2 linked regions of the Homo sapiens genome follow. The protein of the gene in region 1 purifies or fractionates together with the protein of each later gene. This does not show direct contact. Each region holds a gene or a part of one and is shown on either strand. Other genes may lie near its edges.

Region 1 (7,876 bases):
ATCCAGAGAAGGAAACCACAGCTCTGATTTAGCCTATAGTTTCGCCCTACCATACCCTAAAGCTCAGCATACCCTAAAGTTCCCTGGAATGCTCTATCCAGGTGGAGCCTATTTTTTAATTGTGAAAATCCTCCTGTCCTTCAACTTGCACTCAGTGCTCTCTCTTTTCTGGGTCTTCTCTAGGCAGAATTGCCCTTAGACCTAGATAACATGATGCTGAGGTCAGGAGCTCCATCTGGCTCCCTTTTGTGATGCGGGTGAGTAGGAGGGGACAGAGCTGGATGCTCTCATACTCTTGATTTGTTTGCACCCTCCTCATCTCTGCTGGCTGGGGCCCCCAGAGCTCCCTCCTTGGCCCTGCCCTCTTCTCTGTCCACACTCATGCCTCTGGTGATCTCAACAGGCTCCTGCCTTAAATTCCATCTCTATGATGGTGACCTCCGGCCAGACCTCTCTTCAGAAGCCAGAGCCTGCTTGACATCTCCAGCTGCTTGACATCTCCACCAGGGTGTGTAGTAGGTGACTGTGAATGGAGTTTGACCCGTGCAAACTGAAATTCTGGATTTCCCTCCCCAGCACCTGCAGTCTTTCCTGTTCCAGTTGGCAGAAACTTCAGCTTTCTAGTTGCGCAGACTCAAAACCTTGGTGTCGTTCTTGACTTTTCTCTTTCTTTTACACCCCACATTCATATGGTCAGCAGATCCCCTCAGCTCTCCCTTCCTGTTGAGAATCTGACCTCTTTTCACCTCAGCCTGGTCCAAGCCTCCATCATCTCTTGCTTGGATAATTGCAGGAGTCTCCTCACTGGTCTCCCTGCTTTCTTCCTCACCATTTCAGTTTATTTCAACACATTAGCCAGAATGTGCATGTCCCTCTGCTCAAAACCCTGCAGTGGCTTCCCACATCACTCTGAGTCAAAGCCCTGCATAATCTGCACCCTCCTATGATTCCTTTCGCCTCATCTGCTTCTCCTGCTCGATCACTCCGTCCCATCTGGCCTTGCCGGCCTCTTCGCTGTTTCTTGGATGCCAAGTGAGTCCTAGCTTTCCTCACCACTTTCGTGTCTTTGCTCACATGTCCTCTCAGTGAAGCCTATGCTGGTCACTCTATCTAAAATCGCAAAAAAAAAAAAAATACTCCTAATCATTTTGCATAGACTTTATCATCATCTAGCATATGATATGTAATGTACTTACCCTTTCTCTTGCATATCTCCCACCACCTCTCAATACAAGGTCCCTGAGTCTGGGGGCTTTGTTATACTTATTGATGTATCCAAAGAATCTAGATTAGGGCCTGGCACATAGTTGGTACTCAATAAATATGTATTTAATGGAATTAGACTAAGAGAAATTGAATGGGAGCAAATTAAAGCTAGTTGTTCACTTTTTGGTCAGTTAGTAGTTCTGAGCCCTGGACGCAGCCTTACATACATTTTTTAACTGCCCAGCTGTTTCTGGTCACCGTGGCCTTAGTTTCCCTGCATTTTACCCTTCTCTGCTTCACCAGATGCTGGGACCTCTGAGTCTCCATCATAGAGGAAACACTCTGTGGCAAAAAGGGGATGGCAGAGGGTCAGGTGACAACACTAGAAAGCCGGAAACGCAGGTTCTACCAGGGCCCTGCTCTGGACTCGCTGGGTAGCCCCACACCAGCCACTCACCCTCTCTGTGCCTTAGTTTCCTCCTCCTTCAGTGAGGGTCAGATGAAGCCTTTCTTCTTTTGGCTTGCCTTGATCTCAGAAGGGATGTGGCTGAAGCACTCTGCGCCTGGGGCTGGGAGCACAGGACAGGCGCTGAGTGTTTGCCATTCCCAGAGGCTCCTGTGGGGAAGTCATTTTCTTGCAGGATCATGCCTCAGACACCCACCATAACCTTTCCCTAGGAGACAGTGCCTTCAGATCAATAGCTTGATTGGATGAAGGATTGGGTGGGACGGGGGTGATATAGCCAAGGTGATGGTCATTTTTCATGGCCCACCTGTCCCTTTGTCCTGTCTCATGGCACCCATGTGAAATGCCCACCTGTTAAGGATAAGAAATGAGAGTCCCACCCCCAAAGAATAATTTCGTGCCAATGCCTGCCACCCAATGTTGACAGTGTGAAGCTCATATTACGCAGTGTATCAGTGTAGAGCAAGACTTCAACCAAGGGAAGATCTGGGGTAGGCAAAGATGGACTTTATCTGAACAACAGCTACTATTGAGTATTTCTATGTGAAGGCCTGCTATTGAGCCCTTTTGATATGTAGCCTTTAATTTTTAAAACAATCCATTGAGGGTAGGTGCTGTGTGGTACCCATTTTACAGATGAGGAAACTGAGGCTGAGTTTCATAGCTGATAAGTAGCAAAGTCAGGATTTGACCCAGATCAGCCAGGCTCCAAAGGCTCCCTCTGTTACCCTACTCTAACAGGTAGCTGAAGCATATCTTTTTAAGCTCCCATGTTTTGTTTTTCACTAATATGGATAGACGCTTTTCTAAACTAGGACACACGTGACTGTGTACGGAAACAAGGAGTTTGATAGTCACTATTTCTAGAAGATTCTGGGTCATTGTATGGATGTCAGTGGCTGGCCTGGGCATTGATGTGGATGAAATGGTGTGGATTAGGGGTCTGATGCAGTGGCTGTTTTAACCTTTAAACCCATTGGCACTGATACCAACTTTGGCTTCAGAAATACTGAAATTGAGGTGCCAGTGGTACAGTCCCATGGAGATGTCTAAAACCAGTTAGAGCTGTGCTGGACAGTACCGTAGCCACCAGCCGCATGTGGCTCGTGAGCAGGTAAAATGTAGCTAGTCTAAATTGAAGTGTGCTGCAAATGTAAAATGCATATTAGATTTGGGACACTTAGTATGAAAAAAGAGTGTCAAACACCTCATTAATACATTTTATATATTGATTACATATTGAAATGATAATATTTGGATATATTGAGTCCAATAAAATATATCGTTAAAATTACTTTTACTTTTTTTTGAGACGGAGTTTTGCTCTTGTCACCCAGGCGGGAGTTCAGTGGCTCAATCTTGGCTTATTGCAACCTCTGTCTCCCAGGTTTAAGTGATTCCTCTGCCTCAGCCTCCTGAGTAGCTGAGACTACAGGCGTGTGCCACCACACCCGGCTAATTTTTGTGTTTTTAGTAGAGACGGGGTTTCACCATGTTGACCAGGCTGGTCTCGAACTCCTGACCTCAAGTGATCTGCCCACCTTAGCTTCTGAAAGTGCTGGGATTACATGTGTGAGCCACTGCACCCAGCCTTACCTATTTATTTTTAATGTGCCTACAAGATAATTTAAAATTGCCTATGTAGTGATACATGTGGCTCACATTCCAGGGACAGCCCTGGATTAGAGATTAGTAATGTTAGATGTTTCAGGGACAACACTGGGCCTAACATGAGTGGGAAGAGAAGAGTTTGCTGGCAGAGATCTCCCGGCAGTCTGCTTCATCTTCCCTCCTGTTAGGAGCCAGGCTGTTATTTTGAGGCCACTTGTGTCATACCCAAGCCTTAGTGGGAATGGAGCTGGGAGATTAGACCAGGCTGAAGGAGAAACGTGGGAGTCCTAATCTATGGGTGGCAGGGATCCATGCAGTACTTTTGAAGCAGAGATGTTGGGATGGAGATGGATTCTATGCCCGCAGTATGCAAGGGAGCTTAGGGGGCCAGGCAGGTGACAAGGAAGCCAGGGAGGAGGCATGGGCAGTCTTGTAGCAGAGAGATGCTGAGCTCAAAAGTTGGCAACCACTCATTTGACCGTTCCCCTTCTCTAGATCCTTCTTATCCTGCAAATCTTAGCTAAAATATCACCTTCTTTAAGAGGTCTTCCCTGGCCACAGCAGCCCATGCTTCTCTAATTCCAGTTGCATTGTAGTCTGCACCACATCTTTTATTCTGCCATGGTCAGAAGGTCCTCAGCATCCACAGATATCCATGTGGCAAGTACATCCTTTTCCAGAGATCCATGTTGGCACGTACTATATAATTTCTCCCATGAAATTTGCATGCCCATGAAATTTGGGTGTAGGCCTGGCTGGACACAGTCCTGAAGCATGCAGATTCCAGACGTGACCCCCAGCAGAAGCACACATCACTCTTTCAAACCTTTGGCGTGTCATTCATGAAGGGATGAAATGGCAGCTATTCAGTCATAATATTCCAAGGGTCCCCGGCTCTACCCTCCAGTTGTTGTAACTCAACTGTGAGTTCTCAGCAGAGTCTGTTTTCTCTTCTTGACCCTAGGAGACCCTGCCATCTGCAGTGCTGTGCGTGTAGCTAGTGGGTACCCAATGGAGTAGCTGTAGAAGGGGGGATGTAAGCTCCATGAGGGCAGCAGGGAGGGTGACAGCAAGTTCAGCCTTTTCCCATGGTTGCTGGGTCATAGAAAGTGTTTATCAGTAGCTGCTGGATGAATGAATGCACTGACCTGGACACTTCATTTGAGGAGCACAGGATTTCATTTGGTTGATTTTCGTTAGTTGGGCTGCGTGTAGAAGAAAGGTCTGTTCACTTTGTTTACAGAATGAATCTTTAGTGGAAAATCAAGGGGTTTTAAAGATTCTGGTGGAGGGCATAAGCCTAAGACAAAGCACGGGAGGTGGGCTTCACATGGATGGACGGAACCATCTGTGGCGTCCCCTGCAACTGGTGTGTAGGAGACTCTGAATGGCAATAAAGTTAATTGTACTTTTTCTCCTTTTCTCTATTTTTGTCATCTAGATTCACCAAAACCACCTGTCGCTCCCAAGCCAAAGACTACCAGTCCACTGACGCCAGTGACCGCGCCCAAATTCCCTTCCTCAGCCAGGCCCGAGAGTCTTCACAGTCCAAACTCCATGTTCAGGGGTCCGAAGCCCCCCATTGCCCCCAAGCCCAGGCTGACTGCCCCAAACGAGTGGAGAGCCAGTGTGTACCTGAATGACAGCTTGAACAAATGCAGCAACGGGCGGCTGCCCTGTGTAGACAGGGGGCTTGATGAGGGGCCCCGGTCCATCCCAAAGTGCTCTGAGTCGGAGACCGACGAGGATTACATCGTGGTCCCCAGGGTTCCGCTGAGGGAGGATGAACCCAAGGACGAGGGCAGTGTGGGGAACAAAGCCCTGGTGTCTCCCGAGTCCTCTGCGGAAGAGGAAGAGGAGCGTGAAGAGGGAGGCGAGGCATGTGGCCTGGAGGGTACAGGAGCTGGTGAGGATTCAGTGGCCCCTGCTGCTCCGGGTGCAGGAGCGCTGAGCAGGGAGGGTGAGGAAGGCACAGACCTTGCTCTTGAGGATGAAGGGGAGGGCTGCGCTGATGAGCCAGGGACACTGGAGCAGGTGTCCAGAAGTGAGGAGGAAGAGAAGCTAGTGCAGCCACACAGGGAGTGCAGCCTGGAGGACAGTGGGCCTTGGGCTGGAGAGGGGGTCTTCCAGAGCGACCTCCTCCTGCCTCACATCCATGGAGAGGACCAGGAGCCCCCCGACACCCCCGGGGAGGCAGAGGAGGATGATGAGGAAGGCTGTGCCAGCACAGACCCAGCAGGGGCAGATGAGGGTTCGGGTCCTGACAGGCCCACGGAGGACATGGGACAGGATGCTGAGGACACCAGTGAGGAGCCCCCTGAGAAGGAGGAGCTGGCCGGGGTCCAGGAGGCAGAGACAGCCACAGACTGCCCTGAAGTTCTTGAGGAGGGATGTGAAGAGGCCACGGGTGTCACAGGTGGGGAACAGGTTGACCTCAGTGAACCACCTGACCACGAGAAGAAAACCAACCAAGAAGTGGCAGCCGCCACCCTGGAGGACCATGCACAGGATGAGTCCGCCGAGGAGAGCTGCCAGATTGTCCCTTTTGAGAATGACTGCATGGAGGACTTCGTGACTTCCCTCACAGGAAGCCCCTATGAGTTCTTCCCAACTGAGAGCACCTCTTTTTGCAGCGAGAGCTGTTCTCCTCTTTCTGAATCAGCGAAAGGTTTAGAATCAGAGCAGGCACCAAAGCTGGGGCTGCGTGCGGAGGAGAACCCCATGGTGGGGGCTTTGTGTGGCCAGTGTGGCTCCCTACAGGGTGGAGCGGCCGAGGGTCCCGCAGCCCCTGATGTGGTGGTCGTGCTGGAGGAGGAGGCCTTGGATGATGCACTGGCCAACCCCTATGTGATGGGAGTGGGCCTGCCCGGTCAGGCGGCCCCTGGAGAAGGAGGGCAGGCTGCATCGGACGCCCTGGGTGGTTATGGCTCGAAAGAAGAATTGAACTGTGAGGCAGAGGGTGGCCTGGTTCCCGCGGACAGGAAGAACACCAGCACGAGGGTCCGGCCCCACTCTGGGAAGGTGGCCGGCTATGTCCCAGAAACCGTCCCTGAAGAAACCGGACCTGAGGCGGGCTCGTCAGCCCCTGGCATTGGAGGTGCCGCAGAGGAGGTGGGAAAGACGCTTTTGTCATTGGAGGGGAAGCCCTTGGAAGCCAGCAGGGCCTTGCCAGCAAAGCCCAGGGCCTTTACTTTATACCCTCGGTCGTTCTCCGTGGAAGGCCGAGAGATTCCAGTGTCCGTGTACCAGGAGCCTGAGGGGTCAGGGTTGGATGACCACAGGATAAAGAGGAAAGAGGACAATCTCTCTCTGTCGTGTGTAATTGGCTCCTCTGGGAGTTTCTCCCAGAGAAACCACCTTCCGTCCAGCGGCACCTCCACGCCTTCTTCCATGGTCGACATCCCACCTCCTTTCGACCTGGCCTGCATCACCAAGAAGCCCATCACAAAGAGCTCTCCCTCACTCCTGATCGAGAGCGACTCCCCGGACAAGTACAAGAAGAAGAAGTCATCCTTTAAGCGCTTCCTGGCACTGACGTTTAAGAAGAAGACGGAGAACAAATTGCATGTGGATGTGAACGTGTCTTCCTCTAGGTCCTCTTCAGAGTCCAGCTACCACGGGCCTTCCAGGATTCTGGAAGTTGACCGGAGAAGCCTCAGCAACTCCCCTCAGCTTAAGTCTCGGACTGGGAAGCTCCGGGCTTCTGAATCCCCCTCCTCCCTCATCTTTTATAGAGATGGCAAGAGGAAAGGTGTCCCCTTCAGCAGGACGGTGTCCAGAGTGGAGTCCTTTGAAGACCGCTCCCGGCCGCCCTTCCTGCCCTTGCCACTGACCAAGCCACGGTCCATCTCCTTCCCCAGCGCTGACACTTCAGACTATGAGAACATTCCAGCCATGAACTCGGACTATGAGAATATCCAGATTCCACCCCGGAGACCTGCCAGGGCTGGCGCGTTCACGAAGCTGTTTGAAGATCAGAGCAGAGCCCTGTCCACAGCAAACGAAAATGATGGCTACGTGGACATGAGCAGCTTCAACGCCTTTGAGAGCAAACAGCAGAGTGCAGACCAGGACGCAGAAAGGTACCTGACATTCTATTTCCTTTCTTGTTCGGCAGCTGTAACTGTCCAGGAGGCAGCGTGGGTGTGGGGGACAGATGGACTTGCTTTCCAGCCTCAGGCTCTGTTTCTTACTAGCTGTGTTGACTTGGGGTGAGTGGCTTTATATCTCTGAGCCTCGGTTACTTCATCCGTGAAATGGGACTCATGCTACCTCATGGTAGAGAGTTTAAGAAAATCAGAGTAAGGCCGGGCGCAGTGGCTCATGCCTGTAATCCCAGCACTTTGGGAGGCCGAGGCGGGCAGGTCACAAGGTCAAGAGATCGAGACCATCCTGGTCAACATGGTGAAACCCCGTCTCTACTAAAAATACAAAAATTAGCTGGGCATGGTGGCATGCACCTGTAATCCCAGCTGCTCGGGAGGCTGAGGCAGGAGAATTGCTTGAACTCGGGAGGCGGAGGTTGCAGTGAGCTGAGATCACGCAACTGTACTCCAACCTGGCAATAGAGCGAGACTCTGTCTAAAAAAAATA
Region 2 (7,268 bases), on another chromosome or scaffold:
AAATTGAAAGAACAGATATTTGAAGCATCCCAGCACACCTGACCTTAATGCCAGGAACTGGAGTGCTTGAAGGAGCTGCAGACAGATTAGCAGCTGGTAATCCATTAAAATGGATAAAAACACTTGGAAGCTCTGTGATTTCAATGAAGATTGTGCTTTTAATCTGTGTTATTTGTATAGTCTGCAGATGTGGATCCTGACTCTGCAAGAAGTAGCTCACCGTAACAAAGCTGCCTTTGCTTTTATCACTTTGCAAAACAAATAAAGGGGACACGTTGGGAACAGGCCCCCCAATGTGGCCATAAACTGTCCCCAAAACTGGCCATAAACAAAATCTCTGCAGCACTCTGACATGCTCTTGATGGCCATGATGCCCACGCTGGAAGGTTGTCGGTTTACTGGAATGAGGGCAAGGGACACCTGGCCCACCCAGGGTGGAAAACCGTTTAAGGCATTCTTAAACCACAAACAATAGCATGAGCGATCTGTGCCTTAAGGACATTTTCCTGCTGCAGATAACTAGCCAGAGCCCATCCTTTTGTTTCCCGTAAGGAATACTTTTAGTAAATCTTATCACTGGCTTGCTGTCAATAAATATGTGGGTAAATCTCTGTTCAAGGCTCTCAGCTCTGAAGGCTGTAAGACCCCTGATTTCCCACTTCACATGCTGTATTTCTGTGTGTGTGTCTTTAATTCCTCCAGCACCGCTGGGTTAGGGTCTCCACAACCGAGCTGGTCTCAGCAGTAAATATTGAAAAGGAATAGATACAATTGTCATTATTTACAGATAGAATTTCCAAACAATTCCCAGGGAATAAACTGAAAAACTAACAGAAACAAAACAAGAATGTAGTAAGGTGTCTGGATAAGAGATTTGTATCTAAAAATCAGTAGCTTTACAATGTGCCAGCAGTAGTCTGCTCAGACATCAGTAAATATCTCATTCACATTTCAAAAAAAATTGAAAATGCCCTGAAATAATGTAACCAGAAATACGAAAAAAAGGATATGAAAACATGTGGCTGCTAATGGACATGAAAGAATGTAATACTAGATTCTGAGATGCAATGTTTTTCATTTGTTCTTCCTGAAAAACCATTAGGTTGATGTGCATTACAGTGTTACGATTATGTATGAGTCTAAGGAAAATCAGATGAAATGTCCAAATTAAACCATGAAGGTGCATTGGTAGAGGAAGAGAAAATTAGGGTCAGTGGAGCAAAGCACAGTTAGAGGGAGAAGCAAGGAGGAGGAGGGATCACTGAGGTGGTGCCTGTCCCACAGGAAGCAAAAGCTGACGCCTAGTTCCCAGCATACCTACAGTAAACTTCAGGTCCACTGCATAGCACGTCTCTCATCACAGTAAAACTATGAAGGAACTCAGTGTACAAGGAGCTTCTACAAGATAGGCAGAAGACAGTAGCCAGATGGGCCAAGGGCCCCAGCCACCCACGCCCCTCCCTCTCCTTGAAGACGTGCAGCTCCAACACCACCATCACCAGGGCTCTGCTCAGCTCCTCCTAGTGTGTATCACCACAGGGCTGCTGGCTTGTGTCACGTTCACCACCAGACCCCGCGTCAGGAGTCCCGCCAGGGGTGTGGAGAGGCAGCGCTGCCTGGTTGGCCGTGGAGCTGTATGGAACATGGTGCCTCACAGGCAGTCTGCTTGGAGTCCTGGACCCTGGCTGTATCCTGCTGGAAAGGATGTGTGTGGGTCTAAGATGTGTATGTAATAGAAACATTTATTTATTCAGAAGCTTTAGTCAAAACTTCATTTTTAAGTTTGGAGTAATAAACTCATAGTCTGAATTTCCTAATTTTTCTGTTTAATTTATGTAACTTTTAAGTGAAATGCAAAACAACAGGTCTAAAAGTTAAGCAGTTCTTGGTATGGCTGCTTCTATGGATTAAAAGTTTACAAATAATATTTTGTGCCACAGTCAATGCAAAATCATGCTGCCGTGTTCCGTGTGGGAAGCGTGTTGCAAGAAGGTTGTGGGAAAATCAGCAAGCTCTATGGAGACCTAAAGCACCTGAAGACGTTCGACCGGGGTGAGCAGACAGTGGGCTCTGTGCACACTGTTGGGCCCTTCCTTCTGCAGGGTGGGCTGGTGTCTGTCCCGTCAGTGCTGACTTAGTTCCGTGCTTGCTGTCTGGATGGGTCCTGGCCCACAGCTATAAAGCCACAACCAGTGACTCCATGGACTAGCAGGCCCAGGCTGACAGCTCGGAGGGCCCATGTGACTGGGTCCCGCCTGCCCCTGATGGAACTTTTTGTGTCCCCAGGAATGGTCTGGAACACGGACCTGGTGGAGACCCTGGAGCTGCAGAACCTGATGCTGTGTGCGCTGCAGACCATCTACGGAGCAGAGGCACGGAAGGAGTCACGGGGCGCGCATGCCAGGGAAGACTACAAGGTGGGCCTTCTCACCACGCCCACCTGCACCTGCCTTTTCCTGCCACCTGGTGGGACTCAGCCCCACCCCTGCATTTTCTCTGCATTTTCTTTCGTTGCCCCAAAAGTAAATCCAAAAAATGCCTTTTTCCCCCCTGGTAACTTTGATCCCTGGGTTCTCGCCATCTTCTGGATCACTGTGACCTTTTCCTTGCTTTGGGTCGGCATCCACTGATGCCAGCAGTGGCATCTCCAAGCCAATGTGCTTTGCTGTTAGAAGGCCAAGGTTAGAAGTGCAGCTAGAGTGGCAAGACCAGGAAATAAATGCCAGTTTATTAAATAACGAGTAAGCCATCATTTCAAGCCTGCCCTGTGGAGGAAATGCCAGTTTATTAAATAACGAGTAAGCCACCGTTTCAAACCTGCCCTGTGGAGGAAATGCCAGTTTATTAAATAACGAGTAAGCCACCGTTTCAAACCTGCCCTGTGGAGGAAATGCCAGTTTATTAAATAACGAGTAAGCCACCGTTTCAAGCCTGCCCTGTGGAGGAAATGCCAGTTTATTAAATAACGAGTAAGCCACCGTTTCAGACCTGCCCTGTGGTGGAAATGCCAGTTTATTAAATAACGAGTAAGCCACTGTTTCAAACCTGCCCTGTGGAGGAAATGCCAGTTTATTAACGAGTAAGTCACTGTTTCAAACCTGTCCTGTGGAGGAAATGCCAGTTTATTAACGAATAAGCCACCGTTTCAAACCTGCCCTGTGAAGGAAATGCCAGTTTATTAAATAAGGAGTAAGCCACCGTTTCAAGCCTGCCCTGTGGAGGAAATGCCCGTTTATTAAATAACGAGTAAGCCACCGTTTCAAGCCTGCCCTGTGGAGGAAATGCCCGTTTATTAAATAAGGAGTAAGCCACCATTTCAAGCCTGCCCTGTGGAGGAAATGCCAGTTTATTAAATAACGAGTAAGCCACCGTTTCAAGCCTGCCCTGTGGAGGAAATGCCAGTTTATTAAATAACGAGTAAGCCACCATTTCAAACCTGCCCTGTGGAGGAAATGCCAGTTTATTAACGAGTAAGTCACCGTTTCAAACCTGCCCTGTGGAGGAAATGCCAGTTTAGTAACGAGTAAGTCACCGTTTTAAGCCTGTCCTGTGGAGGAAATGCCAGTTTATTAACGAGTAAGCCACCGTTTCAAACCTGCCCTGTGGAGGAAGTGCCAGTTTATTAAATAATGAGTAAGTCACCGTTTCAAGCCTGCCCTGTGGAGGAAATGCCAGTTTATTAAATAACGAGTAAGTCACCGTTTCATACCTGCCCTGTGGAGGAAATGCCAGTTTATTAACGAGTAAGCCACCGTTTCAGACCTGCCCTGTGGAGGAAAATGCCAGTTTATTAACAAGTAAGTCACTGTTTCAGACCTGCCCTGTGGATGAAATGCCAGTTTATTAATGAGTAAGTCACCATTTCAGACCTGCGCTGTGGAGGAAATGCCAGTTTATTAAATAAGGAGTAAGCCACCATTTCAGACCTGTCCTGTGGTTTGGAAAAGGTATTATAGAGCCTGCCCTGTGGTCACTTGTTCTTCAGATGAACTGATTTTTGTGCAGAGCGCACGTGTTGGATTCTGCCTGGTAAGAGTTTTTCCCATATGATAGCAAAAAACGACGGAAAGGGAAGCTTGGGATGCAAATGCAAGTTCAGGATAAACCACATCAGCAAAAGGACAAAGGCTCCACAAGGCAGGCGCACAGGCTGGTTCAGGACCGTGTGTAGGCGGCTGGTGGCAGCCTTTCCAGTCAGCTGAACATGGTGAATGGGAAAATCATTTTTATTCACCATGAAATTTTACTGATTTACCCTCCACTAGAATATGCTGATGGCTGTGATCACTGCTCAGAACTTGCTCTTGTCTCCTTGTATGTATTAAGAGTTTCCTGCAAAGTATATGAATCCGTGTTTGCCAGAATACAGAATAATAGTAAATTTATTATTTTTATTTTTATTTTTTTGAGAAGGAATCTCACTGTCCCCCAGGCTGGAGTGCAGTGGCGTGATCTCAGCTCACTGCAACCTCTGCCTCCCGGGTTCAAGTGATTCTCCTGCCTCAGCCTCCCAAGCAGCTGGGATTACAGACACACTGCCACCATGCCTAATTTTGTATTTTCAGTAGAGATGGGGTTTCACCATATTGGCCGGGCTGGTCTCGAACTCCTGACCTCAAGTGAACCACCCACCTCGGCCTCCCAAAGTGCTAGGGTTACAGGCATGAGCCACTGTGCCTGGCCAGTGCATAAATTTAGTTGGTCACAGTCAGTTTTAATTAGAATAGAAGCCAGGTGCAGTGCCTCACACCTGTAATCCCAGCATTTGGGAGGCTGAGGCAGGCCAATGACTTGAGCCCCAGAGTTGTAGACCAGCCTGGGCAACATGGCGAAACGTGTCTCTACAAAAACATAAAAAATGAGCCAGGTGTGGTGGTAGCACAGGAGGCTGAGGCAGGAGGATTGATTGAGCCTGGGAAGTCAAGGCTCCGGCAAGCTGTGATCACACCACTGCACTCCAGCCCAGGTGACATAGCCAGACCCTGTCTCAAAAAAAAAATTTTTTTTTAATAAAAACAGGCTGAAAGAAAAGATTGAGGTAGTCTCCCAGCACATGGAGCAAAAAGACAAAGTATTTGATAAACTCTTAGGTACATAAAGGATGCTTAAGGGAACATGCGGACATGGATTACTGTGGACTCACTGCTGGCTGCACACCCCCTGGCCAGCCATGCGGCCTCCGTGGGTTCTGAACATGTTGATGGTGCCAACCTCCTGGGCTGAAGTGGAAATGGAATGAGTTCTAGGGCATCTGTCTCTTAGATCATGTTAATGTCTGCTGTGTTTTTTCTGTATTGCTCTGTTAGAGTAATAAGAAACGTGATGGTGTTTCTGGCCTCAGGTGCGGATTGATGAGTACGATTACTCCAAGCCCATCCAGGGGCAACAGAAGAAGCCCTTTGAGGAGCACTGGAGGAAGCACACCCTGTCCTATGTGGACGTTGGCACTGGGAAGGTCAGTGTGGAGCTCGTTCTCACCACAGCCCAGCACCCACACGGCCCCGCCCAGGCCTGCGGGCTGGCCTTGCTGATGGTGAACGGGGAAGAGCAGGCCAGATTTAAATCAACTCCCGACAGATTCGAGGCACCGCTGAAAAAGGCACTCCGACAGCAGTCGGGCTTCGGGCTGGAAACAGAATCCAGTTCCTGCAGGTGGTTCAGAGGAGCCTTAAGGAAGGGTTGCTCCGTGGTGTGCGCCAGATGGACGTCACTGGGCAGGAGCAAGTGTCCAAGGCCTGGTGGTAGGGGAGGAGATGATGATTGTGGACCTAGCGAGAAAGCATCTGTGGGGTGGGGACACACAGCCATTACCAGAAACCAGTCCCACGTTAAGGGAGCCCAGAAGAGACACCTCCCCTCTCCTCCCACGGGCTGGGCCAACTGGAAGCGTCTGCAGGGGAGCTGAGGGGATGTGGTGCAGCCTTTAGCATCCCCTGGGCACTGAGCAAGCAGAGAAGGGCAGAAATGGAGGTGGGGTTGGGGTGAGCAGTGTCCTGGGAACAGCCAGCCGAGGGTGTGGTAGGGGGTCGCAGCCTTTTTCCACACACGGTGAGCAGCGTCCTGGGAACAGCCAGCCGAGGGTGTGGTAGGGGGGTCGCAGCCTTGTTCCACACAAGCACAGTTCACCTGTGTGGCATTTCCGCTGGGCATTAAGATTCAGAAATAATGAAGATAGAAAGCTTTTACCCTTAAACTTTTCATAGCTTGTAAGAGTCGTATAATCACTTAGCTGTGTCTGTGGAAGTTACCTTTGGACTCTCACTATCATCTAGTGTGTCTGTGATTCAGGCAGTAGGTCATTTTCAGGACTTCTCATGAAGGCCATTTCTTGATAGTGTATAGAAATCACACTTCACTCGCTTAGCACAAGTCTATTTTTAATGTTTCCGGGTTCGGGTTTTTTGGTTTTTTTTTGTTTTTCTGAGATAGAGTCTCATCTCTGTTGCCCAGGCTGATATGTGTTGGCTTGATCTCGTCTCACTGCAGCCTCAACCTCCCCCAGGCTCAGGTGATCCTCCCACCTCAGCTTCCTGGGCACATGGCACCATGCCTGGCTAATTTTTATATGTTTTGTAGAGATGGGGTTTCTCCACGTTGCCCAGGCTAGTCTTGAACTCCTGCGCTCAAGTGATCCACCTGTCTTGGCCTCCCAACAGGCATGAACCAACACCCCCAGCCAGTTTTAGTGATTTTTCAAGAAATACATACTCATTTTAGAAAGTACAAAGAGATTGAAATAAGAGCTCACTAACCAGAGACGACCCATTATGGTTTAAATTTCTTTGTATATGTGCCTACCTTTTCCTGTGTGTGCATATTTAATACACAGCTTGAGTATTCCTTCTCTGAAATCCTTGGGACCAGAAGCGTTGTGGATTTCAGGCTTGTTCAGACTTTGGAATATTTGCATTATACTTACTGTCTGAGCATCCCTAATCGGAAGATCTGACTCCATAGCACATTTCTTTTGAATGTCATGCTGGTGCTCAGAAAGTTTCAGATTTTAGAGAATTTCAGATTTTTGGATTAGGGATGTTCAACCTATATAAATATTTACTTTGAAGTAGAAAAACTGGAAGTAGATGGTTTAAACATAAAGTGTCTTGGTATAGACAAGGGTTCTCCCACTTTACATGATGGGAGCATTTTTGTAAAGCACTGAGAATCTTAAAGTTCACATGCCATAAATCTACTTTTATAGTTAAAATTTTTCAAAAGGAACACAAGAGATGGCTTTTTGTACATTTTTGTGCTTAACTTACCACTGA

Evidence for each region.
Region 2: the proteins of FGD5 (region 1) and SDHA purify together in Homo sapiens (affinity purification with mass spectrometry; 2 studies listed by BioGRID and IntAct, with this or other methods). This does not show direct contact.

What each region holds. Positions count from the first base shown.
Region 1 is NC_000003.12:14,814,232-14,822,107, forward strand, and holds the start of FGD5 (FYVE, RhoGEF and PH domain-containing protein 5), read left to right. Parts: upstream 1-4,840; coding exon 4,841-7,365; intron 7,366-7,876. UniProt on the Homo sapiens protein: Activates CDC42, a member of the Ras-like family of Rho- and Rac proteins, by exchanging bound GDP for free GTP. Mediates VEGF-induced CDC42 activation.
Region 2 is NC_000005.10:249,052-256,319, forward strand, and holds part of SDHA (succinate dehydrogenase [ubiquinone] flavoprotein subunit, mitochondrial), read left to right. Parts: intron 1-1,940; coding exon 1,941-2,052; intron 2,053-2,286; coding exon 2,287-2,417; intron 2,418-5,341; coding exon 5,342-5,455; intron 5,456-7,268. UniProt on the Homo sapiens protein: Flavoprotein (FP) subunit of succinate dehydrogenase (SDH) that is involved in complex II of the mitochondrial electron transport chain and is responsible for transferring electrons from succinate to ubiquinone (coenzyme Q).